2 separate regions of the Homo sapiens genome follow, and region 2 is linked to region 1. The links come from fine-mapping of genetic effects on gene expression. Tissue or cell type: whole blood. Region 1 holds a variant in brackets; the other region holds the start of a gene. All regions are shown on one strand. Distances are from middle to middle.

Region 1 (7,614 bases):
ATTTTCTATTAGGAGTTTGGTAAAATATTGTAAAAATATCTTCACCTGTGTTAGGAGTATTATCAGAAAGAATGGATTCTTTAATAAATATGTAAAACACAGTAGTTTTGGAATTGCCTTCCTTAGTATTGTGGTTTTCACCTAGCTTATATTCCAAGATTTACAGAATAGCTTTTAGGATAAGATGTTAGGACTTTTTTTTTTTCCCCATGAGAATTCCTTTATTTTTGGAGGAAATTATTATCTAATTATTGATCTACTTATAAGTAATCCTAGAATTTTTGCCAAAAGATCCTGTCGTTGCATAATCAAACAGTTGGTATTCTCGTGCCGTTGTTCAAAGTCATGTGTTTCTTTCATTTGGTGCTGAAAATTTCTGTTCAATCATTGACAAATATTTATTGAACACCCACTCTGTGCCATGTAAAACTATGTCAGGTGCTGGATATGTTGATGAATGAAACAGACTCTATCCTTATACAATTTGAGTCTTGTGGGCTCAGAAGTAAATTCTGTGAAAGCTGGACGGATAGTCGAATTGAGTGCTCTTAGTTTTGCCAATATTTAACATGTTGTTCTTATCAATTTTTTAAAATAAATGTTAATGTACAAAGTTAATCTAGGTTTTGATGTATATCCAGAGAATCAATTTTTCTTAAAGTATCTGCGTAGACATTCATAGCAAAGAATTTATGACATATCAGATAGAAATACATTAAAATGTAGTGTTTTCCCAGAGATTGATCTGGCTTTTTTTTTTTGATATACATAAGATACCACTTTATAAAGAAGCTCCATACTATAGAACCTCCCCTAACAGGCTTAAAATACCTTCTTTTTTTTTTTTTTTTTTTTTGAGAACGGAGTCTTGCTTTGTCACCCAGGCTGGACTGCAGTGGCATGATCTCGGCTCTGCAACCTCCATCTCCCAGGTTCAAGCGATTCTCCTGCCTCAGCCTCCCAAGTAGCTGGGATTACAGGCAGGCACCACTATGCCTGGCTAATTTTTTGTATTTTTAGTAGATATGGGGATTCACCATGTTGGTCAGGCTGGTCTCGAACTCCTGACCTTGTGATCTGCCTGCCTCGGCCTCCCAGTATTGGGATTACAGGCATGAGCCACCATGCCCGGCCTTAAAATGCCTTCTTAAAGGAAAAATGCCAACTCCATCCTTAATCTCAAGGAAATCTGATTGTCCAAATAGATCTGTTAATATGTAACATATTAATAGGTAACTTGCTGTGTAAAATTATAAGCCATATTTTAAAAGGTTTTAAAAATACTTATTGTGCTCCATTTGTGATATAATTTCTAACATTTCTGCTCTGTGATGGGGGTTTATTTGTAAGAATAAGAGGCAAAGGAATGTTAGCATAGCAAAAATGTGTTTGAATGAGTTAACCTTTTAATCGCAACCCTATGTGAATAAAATTACTCCACTGTTACCTCTTCTTTTTAACATTTCTTATTTCCCTCTCAAGGGGTCATTATTTGAAAACTAGTTTTCACAAAATGTTATGTTTCAGAAGTGTTTCCCCACTGCTGTGTATTATTATTCTGTGCCCTGTTGACTTCATTCACTGTTAACATTTGACATAGAATGATTAGTTATTAAATCAGGGTGAAGTGCTTACCTGGTCAGTGTAGGCTCTTCAGATAATTTTGACTTAATATTTTTGATACTCCTTGTGCATTTACATTCATGGCCCCTGTACATTAAATCATATTACATGTTTTACTACATTGATTTCACTTTTTAATAAGCAGAAAGAGAGCCAGGTAACACATTTTTATTGTAAAATATCCACTTGAGTTGAAAAAGTTGTCAAATACAAGTTTAAGGATACGTTATATATTTTGCTTAGTTGTGAAAATAATGTACATTTAGAATTTAAATCACTTAAATTCATTCCATTGTACCAATATTATTTATGCATCCTTATACTTAAGAATAGCATCTACTAAGACAATTATGCAGAAAAGATCCCAGGGATAATGCAACACCTAAATATAATGGTGGGGGAGATAAGAGTAAATGTACTAATGAGTTGTCTAACTAAAGAATAGTTCAATTTTATTTTTTCAAAGGCATTTTATTCTTGACTTTAACATTAAAAGTACTCAAGGGATTGGGGCATAAGTCAGTGAGAAGGCTTATTAAGTTTTCTACATTAAGGTATGAAGAGTTTTTAAGTCTTACGGGCTTTAAGACTTTTTTTAAAGAAAATCACTGACTACATGAGCTAAAAGTAGAAAAGCATATTTTAAGTGTTAATCTGAATACCTTAAATATAGTGATTTTAATGCTCAAAATTACAATTTAGATATTCTGGTATTTAGAGAAATGTAAAAATACCGGCATTTTAGTATTTAGATTTGCTAAAACATAGTAACTCAAAGCAGTTACGTTTTGAGTTATCCATAATATTAGTATAGGCTTTTAGGGCTTTGACTTGTATCTTGAAGGGTTAGTCTCTTGGTGAAGAAAACTTTGATTTTCTGGGATATTTGGCTAGGTGGGGAGGAATAGTAAAGAAAGAGGAGGTTGTCATCTTGCTTGTTCCATGGTTAGGGTATGCAGTGACAAGAGGTTTCTTTCTAGTTTGCCCAGTCTCTAGACTACTTGCCTTTGTTTCCTCATAGGCTCTGCATCTTCTCCTGGGCTGTTGTATCCTGCACATTGTGGATGGTCAATAAATGTTGAAGTGTAATTGGGTTCACCAGGATAGGACACAAGCGCTTTATCCAGAAATAAAGTTTTGCACTTGGCCAGTGTCCCTCATGTCTCTGGAGCTTGTGGATAGGGTCTATTAGGAATCAAGAGCCCAAGAGCAGGTAAAGTGACAGCAGTGAAAATGAAACAGACAGGTATGTATCTGAATAGAAGAACAGGATATTACTTATCAAGTGTCTCCTGGCTAAAAAAAAAAAAAAAAAGAACTTGATGATACAAGCCTCTGGAGCACTGACACTATTGACATTTTGTCCAGACAATTCTTTGTTGTAGGGGGCTTTCCTGTTTTCGGATGGTTAGCAGCATCCTTAGCCTCTATTGCCTGTATGCCAATAGCACTTCTCTTGTGACCATCAAAAATGTCTTCAGATGTTACCAAGTATCTCCTGGGTGGGGGAAAATCACCCCTGGTCTAGAGCTTTTTGTTGCTAGATCTAACCACCAGTTTATGGGAATAGGGGAAAGATTAACCTATTACTCCAGGGATAGACGCAAAATCCAGAATGTAGAACACAGGACAGATAACATAGTTTCTTCAATAAATAAATTACAAGGAAAGAAAGGAAGAAACCCTAAATTTAAGATTTAGAGAATTTAAATCAAATGCAGTATGTACACCATGTTTGGATCCTGAGCAAAATAAACCCATTGAAGAAAACACGAGACAACTGAGGAATTGTCAACACCATCTTGATATACAATGCTTCAGGATTCACGCAGGAAAATCCCTAACTTTTAGAGGTATATACCAAAATAGTTATGATATTATGGGTCTGGGTTTTGCTTCAAAATTATCTGTATTGGAGGGGAATGGTTGAGATCATGGATTCAGTGAGATTGGCCAGGAATCAATGACTGTTGAAACTGGAAGATGGGGTCCATCATATTCTTTTTTTTTTTTTTTTTTTT[TTTG/G]CATATGTTTGACGTTTTTCATCATTTAAAAAAAGGCATAGTGGTGATAGGACCAGCACAATTGGGTGATATTCAAGAATCACCATTCTACCATTCGAATGGAAGGGTCCAAAAGGAACAGAATTCCTGGAAGGCCTCTGGGCATACAGTGAACATTCAAATAGTTTCTGAATGACAATAAAACACATAGTATAACCTGATCAAATATATTTTTAAAATGCTGCTGACTTTTATTGATAATACTCCTTTGTCACTTGAATTCAAATGTTTTGTAAATATATTACTACTGGAAGCACTTTAAAGATAACAAGCCTGGTGAGGTGGTTCCAAGATGGCCGAATAGGAACAGCTCCAGTCTACAGCTCCCAGTGTGAGCGACGCAGAATACGGGTGATTTCTGCATTTCCAACTGGGGTACCGGGTTCGTCTCACTGGGGGTGTCGGACAGTGGGTGCAGGACAGTGGGTGCAGCACACCGAGCATGAGCTGAAGCAGGGTGAGGCATCGCCTCACCTGGGAAGTGAAAGGGGTCAGGGAATTCCCTTTCCTAGCCAAGGGAAGCTGTGAGAGATGGCACCTGGAAAATCGGGTCACTCCCACCCTAATACTGTGCTTTTCCAATGGTCTTAACAAACGGCACACCAGGAGATTATATCCCGCGCCTGGCTCAGAGGGTCCCATGCCCATGGAGCCTCGCTCACTGCTAGCACAGCAGTCTGAGATCGAACTGCAAGGCAGCAGCGAGGCTAGGGGAGGGGTGCCTGCCATTGCTGAGGCTTGGGTAGGTAAACAAAGCAGCCAGGAAGCTCGAACTGGGTGGAGCCCACTGCAGCTCAAGGAGGCATGCCTGCCTCTGTAGACTCCACCTCTGGGGGCAGGGCATAGCCAAACAAAAGGCAGCAGAAACCTCTGCAGACTTAAATGTCCCTGTCTGACAGCTTTGAAGAGAGTAGTGGTTCTCCCAGCACAGAGTTTGAGATCTGAGAATGGACAGAATGCCTTCTCAAGTGGGTCCCTGACCCCCGAGCAGCCTAACTGGGAGGCACATCCCAGTAGGGGCAGACTGACACCTCACACGGCCAGGAACCCCTCTGAGATGAAACTTCCAGAGGAACGGTCAGTCAGCAACATTTGCTGTTCAGCAATATTCGCTGTTCTGCAGCCTCCGCTGCTGATACCCAGGCAAACAGCGTCTGGAGTGGACCTCCAGCAAACTCCAACAGACGTGCAGCTGAGGGTCCTGACTGTTAGAAGGAACACTAACAGAAAGGACATCCACACCAAAAACCCATCTGTACGTCACCATCATCAAAGATCAAAGGTAGATAAAACCACAAAGATAGGGAAAAAACAGAGCAGAAAAGCTGAAAATTCTAAAAATCAGAGCACCTCTCCCCCTCCAAAGGAACAAAGCTCCTCGCCAGCAATGGACAAAGCTGGATGGAGAAAGACTTTGACGAGTTGAGAGAAGAAGGCTTCAGATGATCAAACTTCTCCGAGCTAAAGGAGGAAGTTTGAACCCATGGCAAAGAAGCTAAAAACTTTGAAAAAAGATTAGACGAATGGCTAACTAGAATAACCAGTGTAGAGAAGTCCTTAAATAACCTGATGGAGCTGAAAACCATGGCACAAGAACTGCATGATGCATGAACAAGCTTCAGTAGCCAATTTGATCAAGTGGAAGAAAGGGTATCAGTGATTGAAGATAAAATGAATGAAATGAAGTGAGAAGTTTAGAGAAAAAAGAGTAAAAAGAAACGAACAAAGCCTCCAAGAAATATGGGACTATGTGAAAAGACCAAATCTATGTATGATTGGGGTACCTGAAAGTGACGGGGAGAATGGAACCAAGTTGGAAAACACTCTGCAGGATATTATCCAGGAGAATGTCCCCAACTTACAAAGGCAGGCCAACATTCAAATTCAGGAAATACAGAGAACACCACAAAGAAACTCCTCGAGAAGAGCAACCCGAAGGCACATAATTGTCAGATTCACCAAGGTTGAAATGAAGGAAAAAATGTTAAGGGCAGCCAGAGAGAAAGGTCGGGTTACCCATAAAGGGAAGCCCATCAGACTAACAGTGGATTTCTCGGCAGAAACTCTACAAGCCAGAAGAGAGTGGGGGCCAATATTCAACATTCTTAAAGAAAAGAATTTTCAACCCAGAATTTCATATCCAGCCAAACTAAGCTTCATAAGTGAAGGAAAAATAAAATCCTTTACAGACAAGCAAATGCTGAGAGATTTTCTCGCCACCAGGCCTGCCCTGCAAGAGCTCCTAAAGGAAGCACTAAACATGGAAAGGAACAACCGGTACCAGCCACTGCAAAAACATGCCAAATTGTAAAGACCGTTAATGCTAGAAAGAAACTGCATCAACTAACGAGCAAAATAACCAGCTAACATCATAATGACAGGATCAAATTCACAAATAACAATATTAACCTTACAGGTAAATTGACTAAATGCTCCAATTAACAGACACGGACTGGCAAATTGGATAGAGTCAAGACCCATCAGTGTGCTCTATTCAGGAGACCCATCTCACGTGCAGAGATACACATAAGCTCAAAATAAAGGGATGCAGGAAGAACTACCAAGCAAATGGAAAACAAAAAAAGGCAGGGGTTGCAATCCTAGTCTCTGATAAAACAGACTTTAAACCAACAAAGATCAAAAGAGACAAGGCCATTACATAATGGTAAAGGGATCAATTCAACAAGAAGAGCTAACTATCCTAAATATATATGCACCCAATACAGGAGCACCCAGATTCATAAAGCAAGTCCTTAGAGACCTACAAAGAGACTTAGACTCCCACACAATAATAATGGGAGACTTTAACACCCCACTGTCAACATTAGACAGATCAACAAGACAGAAAGTTAAAAAGGATATCCGGGAATTGAACTCAGCTCTCCACCAACTGGACCTAATAGACATCTACAGAACTCTCCACCCCAAATCAACAGAATATACATTCTTCTCAGCACCACATAGCACTTATCCCAAAAATTGACCACATAGTTAGAAGTAAAGCACTCCTCAGCAAATGTAAAAGAACAGAAATTATAACAAACTGTCTCTCAGACCACAGTGTGATCAAACTAGAACTCAGGATTAAGAAACTCACTCAAAACTGCTCAACTACATGGAAATTGAACAACCTGCTCCTGAATGACTACTGGGTACATAACGAAATGAAGCCAGAAATAAAGATGTTCTTTGAAACGAATGAGAACAAAGACACAACATATCAGAATCTCTGGTACATTTAAAGCAGTGTGTAGAGGGAAATTTATAGCACTAAATGCCCACAAGAGAAAGCAGGAAAGATCTAGAATTGATACCCTAACATCACAATTGAAAGAACTAGAGAAGCAAGAGCAAACACATTCAAAAGCTACCAGAAAGGAAGAAATAACTAAGATCAGAGCAGAATTGAAGGAGACAGACACACAAAAAAGCCTTCAAAAAATCAATGAATCCAGGAGCTGGTTTTTTTGAAAAGATCAACAAAATTGATAGACCGCTAGCAAGAGTAATAAAGAAGAGAGAAGAATCAAACGCAATAAAAAATGATAAAGGGGATATCACCACCAATCCCACAGAAATACAAACTACCATCAGAGAATACTATAAACACCTCTACGCAAATAAACTAGAAAATCTAGAAGAAATGGATAAATTCCTCGACACATACATCCTCCCAAGACTAAACCAGCAAGAACTTGAATCCCTGAATAGACCAATAACAGGCTCTGAAACTGAGGCAATAATTAATAGCCTACCAACCAAAAAAAGTCGAGGACCAGATAGATTCACAGCCAAATTCTACCAGAGGTACAAGGAGGAGCTGGTACCATTCCTTCTGAAACTATTCCAATCAATAGAAAAAGAGGGAATCCTCCTTAACTCATTTTGTGAGGCCAGCATCATCCTGATACCAAAGCCGGGCAGAGAC
Region 2 (7,614 bases), 51 kb before region 1:
AAAAAAATTAGCAGGGCATGGTGACACGCATCTGTAATCCCAGCTACCTGGGAGGCTGAGGTAGGAGGATTGCCTGAGCCTGGGAGGTTGCAGCTGTGTGAGCCATGCGGTGCAGTGCCACTGCACTCCAGCCTAGGGGATAGAGTAAGACCCTGTCTCAGGAAAAAAAAAAAAAAAAGATATTTGTAAACTATGGCACTGGAAGGAAGAATTATTGAAATGATTAGCTAATGTTTAGCCTAATCAAGACTTGATATGGATAAGTTTTCTAACAGAGTGTTACCAAGATTTCTTAATTTCTACCAATCTAGTGGATATAAAATATTATTTCACAATGACATTATTTGTATTTCTCTAATTTCCAATAAGGTTATCTTTTCAAGTATTTATTCACTGTTTGTGTTTCTTCTAAAAAATTCCTGCTCACGCCTGGGCACAGTGGCTCACACCTGTAATCCCAGCACTTTGAGAGGCCGAGGTGGGTGGATCATGAGGTCAGGAGATCGAGACCATTCTGGCTAAGATGGTGAAACCCTGTCTCTACTAAAAATACAAAAAATTAGCCAGGCCTGGTGGCACGCACCTGTAGTCCCAGCTACTCTGGAGGCTGAGGCAGGAGAATCCCTTGAACTCGGGAGGCGGAGGTTGCAGTGAGCTGAGATTGCACCACTGCACTCCAGTATGGACGACAGAGCGAAACTCCATCTCAAAAAAAAAAAAATTCACAATTTTTGCAAAGCTAATCATGTCATTTTCTCCTTTTGGTTGCCTCCTAATATATGCAGGATAAAAGGCAGGTTCCTAAGCATGGATTTAACATTTTCCATTGTCTTTACCCTTGTCTACCTCTCTAGCCTCACTTCCCCATGTTGCCTGCCTCTCTCTAAATTCTCTAAAATTTCAAAATTGCTAGTTCATTGCTTCTATGCATTTGTTCATGGTGTTTCTTCTGTGGAATTTCCTTCTCATTCTTGCTGATAATGGCTAATATTGAATTCATTACTTAAGGCTTAGCTCTTCACATTCCCAAAAAGCCTTCTCTAACTCTTGTTAGGTTGACTTGAGACTTGCTCCTCCAAATTTCTCAGCATTCTGTGTATAACTCTATCACTGCATAGACTTTAGGCTCCTCAAGGGCATGGAAGCTTTTTATCATTTCATCTGTAGCACCTAGCAGGATGCCTGGCCTACAGTGACACTCAAATTTAATTTAATCTCCACGAATGTGTGTTACATGTGTAAGATTTAAGAGACATTATCTAAAAGGAAACTAGATAAGGATTGGAAATTCAAGAGAAAGATCTGGGCTAAAGATGCCAGTAATAGCTGAGGTCATGAAAGGGGCTAATATTTGCCAAGTGTCTACTGTGTAATGGGCACAGTGCTAAGCATCTGTGCATATATTCACAATTTTACAAGGTAGCAATTATATTTTATAAATGCAGAAGTAGTCTCAGGAAGGTTAAACAACCAGTTCAAGTTTCACAAAGCTAATAAACAATAAAACTGAGATTTGAACCAAGATCCTTCCATTACACAACACTGAATGAACTCAGGAGCGTGTGTGTGTGACAGAGAGAGAGAGAGAGAAGGAAAAAAGACGGAGAAGAAGAGACAAGGAGACGAGGACAGAAGACATCTTGGAGATGGGTTTAGGAAGAAGTCAAAAAGGGACATAGAGATGGGAGAAACACTGTTAGGGACTGGTATGTTGGGAGACAGTAAAAGATTTCAAGAAGAAATGATAACCATTTCAAATTCTTTGGAAAGATCAATCAATTAAAGAACTGAAAAAAGTCTTTTGAGTTCCAACAAGATCTTTTGGTCACCTTGGAAACAGCAGTAATTAGCAAAGTAGTGGGGAGAAGCTAGTGTACAACAGGTTGAGGAATGACTAGGAGGCAGGGATGTGGCAATGATGAACAGACTACTCTTTCGAGAATCAGCTGTAAAGGTAAGGCAGGCAATATGTAAAAACAAAGGCTTAGAGGTTGTTTTGTTTTTTTAGAAAAATTTTAAAGATGTCATAGACATGAGCATATTTAAATACTGAAGAGGCAAACTCATTTGGGAGGGAAAATTCAAGATACCTGTGAGAGGATGCCTTCAGAAACACTATTTTTGAGGAGGTGGAAGATGAGACGCAAAATAACTATGGACAAAGGGCTATTCCAACTGAGATGTCAATGTATATGTTTGCAGCTGAAATGAGAGTCAAAAATCTGGGTTTTTATCTGTGAAATGGGAAGAAATGAGGTCCGAGATTTCAAATATGAGCAACAAAACTCAGACTTTGATCCCAAACAGTTTCTCCCTACGCATTTTTTTTTCTCTATCGAATGGATCAATTAACATTCCCCTGTTCACCCTGGCCTCAAACCTAAGCGTCATCTGTGATTTCTCCCTTTTTTTTTTCCTTCCTAATGCTAATGAAGTTTAAAATAGTAAGACTACAAAGGAGTCTGAGGATAGTTATAGATGTTACCTCTAGAAGCTCAGGTTATTAAGGTTGTTACACTACACGTCACTATTAGCAGCTGCTGTGAGGGAAAGTTCTTGGTGAGAACGGGTCAGTGGTAGAACTTTACCAAGTAAACACCTATCGGGCTTCATTGTGTATGCTCCCAGTCCAATACACTACCTGGCACACAGCAGGCACACCGCGGGAACCCACGAATGAACGCTGGTGCTGGTGGGCCCGTGAGGAGAGTCATAGATTCACTGAATCGATTTGGACTTGGTAGAACCTTGGGGTCACCCTAACCCCCTTTTTACAGATGAGGAATCTGAGGCCCAGAAAGATGAGGTAACCTGCCCAAAGTCCAGAAGCGACGTAGCGCCAGGACTACAAAGGAGCAAACACAGTGCCAGGGGAAGGGGATCTAAGGAGCTGCGGAATTGAACAGCAGGATGTGCACTGCCATGTGGTTCTCCCCTTACAATGGGACGTTTCCTTCTGTTCTCGTCACACCCCAGCCCAGGTCCTGATCACTCCACGGGTCATTATCCCAACAGCATCCCTTCCTCCTCTTCTTGCCTCCCAAGCTACCCAAGATTCCAAAGCCAGATCAATAGTCATCAAACATTGCTTTAACTCACTCCTTTCCAGTTAAAAGCTTTCAAAGAACTAATTCATTTGGACTTTGTCCTATAGGTAGGGCTCTTCGGGGGGGCAGGGGGCAGCGGGGCGGGCACTGGGTCCCACGCCGAGAGGATTTCGTGCCAAGCCACGCACACGGTGCAGCAGGAGCCGGGTCCGCCTCCTCAGCCCCCAGCCCGGCCCCAGACACACCAGCTATCACACCGACCCTGGTCAAATAAACCAATGGGCACGTGGTCGGCCTGCAGAACAGAACCCAAGCGAGCATATGCCAGGAACCTGCCTTCCCGCCAGCCGCTCAAAACCCCACCCGCTGGCCCCGCGCCGCCTCAGACCGGATCCAGCTGGATTCCTCAGGGCGACGCAATCGCCTAACAGAATTCTACCTCTTTCTCAGGCCGCAGCCAATGGCGCGGCCCCTCGGATCCGGAGCCGCCGCGGGCTCTGATTGGCCGATAGAGTTAGCCTGGGGGCGGGAGAAGAGCGACCTCGGGGAAGCGTGTGGTGCGGGGAGGTCGCCCCCGGGCGGCGAAGCAGCCATTATGCAGGCGTGAGTGAAACGAATAAACAAACAAACAAAACCCACTAGCTGGGGCCTCCATTTCTTCCCCGCCCACCTTTCTCCCGCGTGGGGTCTCCCGTTTCCCAATCGCCACGCTTTCCCCGCCTTCGTCAACGCCTGGGTACGTCCCCCTAGCCGCGTGGGCCACGCACGTCCTGGCACTTAACCTCTGCCCGTCCGGCGCGAAGTTAGAGGCCCGGGCGGCGCGGACGGCGCGCACTCCCGGCGGTAGGGAGCTGAGGCAAGGGGCCCGAGCCCAAGCCCGCGGCCGCGGCCCGGCCCACGATGACTTGCTACCGAGGCTTCTTGCTGGGCAGCTGTTGTCGCGTGGCGGGCGGCCGGGCGGCGGCGCTGCGGGGACCGGGTGCGGGAGGCCCCGCCGCGCGGCCCCGGCTGGGCGGTGACGGTGGCGGCCGGCGGCACCTGGGGCAGGGGCAGCCGCGCGAGCTGGCGGGCTGTGGCAGCCGCGCGGACGGCGGCTTCCGCCCCTCCCGGGTGGTGGTGGTGGCCAAAACCACCCGGTACGAGTTCGAGCAGCAGCGGTACCGTTACGCGGAGCTCTCGGAGGAGGACCTGAAGCAGCTGGTGGGTCCTGGCTCGGCCCCGCTTCGCTCCCGGGCTCGGCCGGGGCTCTGGTGGCGGCTGCGCCCCCTCGGGGGGACCTCTCGGGACGACTCTTCCCAGGGCACCGCAGATGCCGGTCCTGCCTCTCTCGCGGCCCCCAGGTCCTCTGGCTTCTCCCTGGGCCTCCTTTGCCTTTGGGCGTGTGTGCGAGGGAGAGGCAGGGCCGGGGAGAGGGGGAGAGAGAGGGACAGTGGTTCATGCAGGGACTTAGGAGGCAGGGGCGCCGCGGGGAGGGCGAAGAGGGGCTGCCGAGTGGCCTCAGAGTGAGGGGTTTGAGGATTCGTTGGTGCCCTCGCCGCCCCCGCCCTCGTTCCCTGGTTGGGACCCACTCCAAGAAAGTGAGCCAGTGGCCTGAGGTCTGGACGCCCTGCGAACAGCTCCCCTGGCCGCCGCGAGAAAGGGGGCCCAGGGCGCCGCTGAGGGCTGCCGGGGGAAAAGGGCCGAAACAACCGCGGACACACCCCCTTTTACTCTGCAGGACTGCGAGGCCTAGGGCACTCCGGAAAGTCCTTCAGCGTGAGCCTTTTCCTTGCTGGAACGTGGTCGTTGGACACTACGAGCTTGTTTTAAAAGCACAGGTCTTTGGTGCTAAGAAGGAAAAGGGAGAAAATTTGACTTGTATATGTACGTTATTAAGGAGAAATGTCAGGACAAGGGGCTGGTATACTGGGTAGTGTGTGAAATAAAAAAGCCTGCGACTCTTGTGCAGCAGTATCTCCACAATATACCATATTTGATATGTTTATTAATATATCTGCAAAGATACAAATCCAAGGGAAAAACCAGAGTTTGAATCTTCCTGTTGTCATCCCCCCCCACCAACTTTAAAAACAGTTTCTGATCCCATACCACCATCCACCAACTTTAGGAAAAGGAGAGTGCCCGGTGCTACCATGAGCAGTATGTCCAGAAAAATATATTGGAAATCTCTTAATTGTTGGCACTGTGCACCAAAAGGTTTTGGAATTAATTGCACATAACTGATTTAGTTTAATTCTGTGCAAGACTAGACAACCTGTTGGAAACTTCTGGTATCGTGTGATCTTAGCGAAGTTATTTTGTAGAGGCATCAAAATGAAATTGTAAATCATCTTTGCTTAAGTGCTGAATCTGTTGTCAACATTAAACATCCTGCTTCTTTGTTGGGTTTACTGAAGAGGGCTCCTGCATTCACCTGATGGGAGTCTAGATGTGTAGATTTGTTTTCTTTTTCCTAAGTGTTTGAAAATGACTGTTTATAGAATACACTTGCATCATTTAAAGAATAAAGGGTTTGAACAGGAGGTTAGAGTAGTTGAGTTTGTATTAGGGAGTGAAACTAGAGGTGAGATAGGGACTAGTAATGTTCTAAGAAAGCACAGTGTTACTATTTGGGGAAAGTGGTGTGCCCTTTGGGTTGTACTAATTTTGCAAAGTCTAGCTTGTAGGATTTGTCAAATGCCATGTATGCATAAATATGTGCATACAGTTTTATCGAAGCTTCCCACAACAATTTAAAATAGCTCACTTGGCATGTTCAGAGTGTGGGATTAAGAGTGAAGAGCTCAGTTCTAGGCCCTGGTTCTGTGTGGTTAACTTCCTATGTGTGTTCTTCTCTGGGCCTCATAGGTGGAAATGATACTTTTTGTATAGTAGTGTCAGTTTTCAAAGTGCTTCACCTAATTCAGTATGTGAATTGCAGAGGTAGTACCAGATAGCCTCCAAGGCCCTTTACAGTACTGGCATTTTGAAACTGTGGATAACGTTTTCAAGGCCTCAAGAAAATGGGTGGCATCTCAGTTAGGATTAACTCTTGGACCTCTGAACTAGATTACCACTTAATAAAAAAACTTTTAAAATGTAGGGAAAATCAATAAGTCTTAAAAAGTCAAACTACCTAAGTGTACCCGTTCTGAGTGGAGAAATCTCTAATAGGTAAATATTTGTCTATTGCTAGGTAATGCTGTTTGGGATAAGCCAGCTTTGAAGTAAAACTCGTGGGCTGTAGAATACACAGTTTTGTAATTGCCAGGCAGTGGAATAGTTTTTGTTGGTGGTGTTGTCATTACAGTTTTATTGGATAAGTTCCTTACTGATTTGAATTTGTGTTATAGTTTATATAAAGGCCCATACTCAGAATGCAATAGCATTAGTTGTAGACCAGATGAGAGATTATTAACAGGCCAAAGAATACTGGGCTGTGTGAAGCTGTCCTAAAATGGGATTCTGTAATAGGAGTGATAAGATGATAAGTATTATTTGTTATATTGCTGGGGTAGAAAATACTAAGTTATGTGAATCATGTGAATTGGATGGATATAAAAGAAAGTGGCCAAGTGCTTGAGTCTCACCATGGCTGCTGTGTCTATAGTGTCATGGTAACTTGGTTTTTTGTCAAAGCATTCTCTTTTGTTGTCGTGGTGGTGGTTTTTTGATGTAAAACAGGTCTGTTTTAGGCTATTTGTTAAAATGCAAATGGAAGATGAAGGATAGAGTGCCAGTATAATTTTATACCCTGAAGGCTGATGATTTTCTAACTTTGTAGAAATGTAAACAATTACAGGAAATATTTTTTAGTTGATAAGGCATGCACAGAATAGGTTTACAACCTTCAAGCTAGTCAAAGTTTTGACTTTTATTTACCGTTTCATATTGGTTACATTGCTTTATTTTAAAATCTTGTCTTTTTCCCCATTGATTGACCAGTGACTTATTTTGTGATATCAGATTTCTGGTCAAACATTTTACCTCTACTGTCTCATGACCTTTCAAAGGCCAGTAAAACTATTATTACAATTTACTTGCATCATTAAGAGATGTAGCTGTTGGCAAATGTGCAATTGCTATTAACAGGGTCCTTGACACAAATTAGAACTCTAGATGAAACAAAACTGACTTGGAAAGGATTTTGACACCAGAAACATACCTCATTGGTCAAAAAAAGGTTTTATTTAAAGCTCTTTTTCACCTGTCACCAGGGATGGGGAACTGAATAAGGAAAAAAAATTTTAATGTAGAACAAATAAGAAGTCAGCAGTTTCTGCCCTCCTCTCCATCATTCCAGGTCTCACAACTCGGCAACCCTTTTACTGGTTCCTATTTTTAGTTTTGTTTTTTAAAATTCATAATGGGATAGAATAATTTCATTTAACAGTCTGCCGTGTTATTGGATTAAACTAGATGACTTGGAAGGTGTAGCACCTTGGATTTCCCTTTTGTTTTCTGAAGATTTTGTGGCTTAGGTTGTAGCACTTGGGCAGATAATACTTTTGCCACAGGGTATGCAATAAGCGTACCATGGTATACTTTTGTCAGGTGGTATACTTTTGCTACATTGTATGCAATAAGT

What was found. PIP is the estimated chance that this variant, and not a neighbour inherited with it, causes the effect.
Region 2: NADK2 starts here. The variant in region 1 is fine-mapped to the expression of NADK2 in whole blood (INTERVAL, PIP 0.96).

What each region holds. Positions count from the first base shown.
Region 1 is chr5:36,186,717-36,194,330 of GRCh38, reverse strand. NADK2 (NAD kinase 2, mitochondrial) reads left to right here. Exons shown (of 12, transcript NM_001085411.3): 12 at 1-1,742. It also overlaps a transcript of SKP2 not described here. Among named protein-coding and RNA genes, the nearest start is that of NADK2-AS1, 31 kb to the left of the region's middle. The variant TTTG/G (reference allele first, on the strand shown) is at 3,645.
Region 2 is chr5:36,238,132-36,245,745 of GRCh38, reverse strand. NADK2 (NAD kinase 2, mitochondrial) reads left to right here and starts at 3,821. Exons shown (of 12, transcript NM_001085411.3): 1 at 3,821-4,247. The coding sequence starts at 3,948. It overlaps LOC124900962 (a long non-coding RNA gene), which reads right to left and starts at 3,844. Exons shown (of 3, transcript XR_007058733.1): 1 at 3,718-3,844. RefSeq lists enhancers at 3,297-3,496, 4,847-4,916 and a silencer at 3,737-4,756.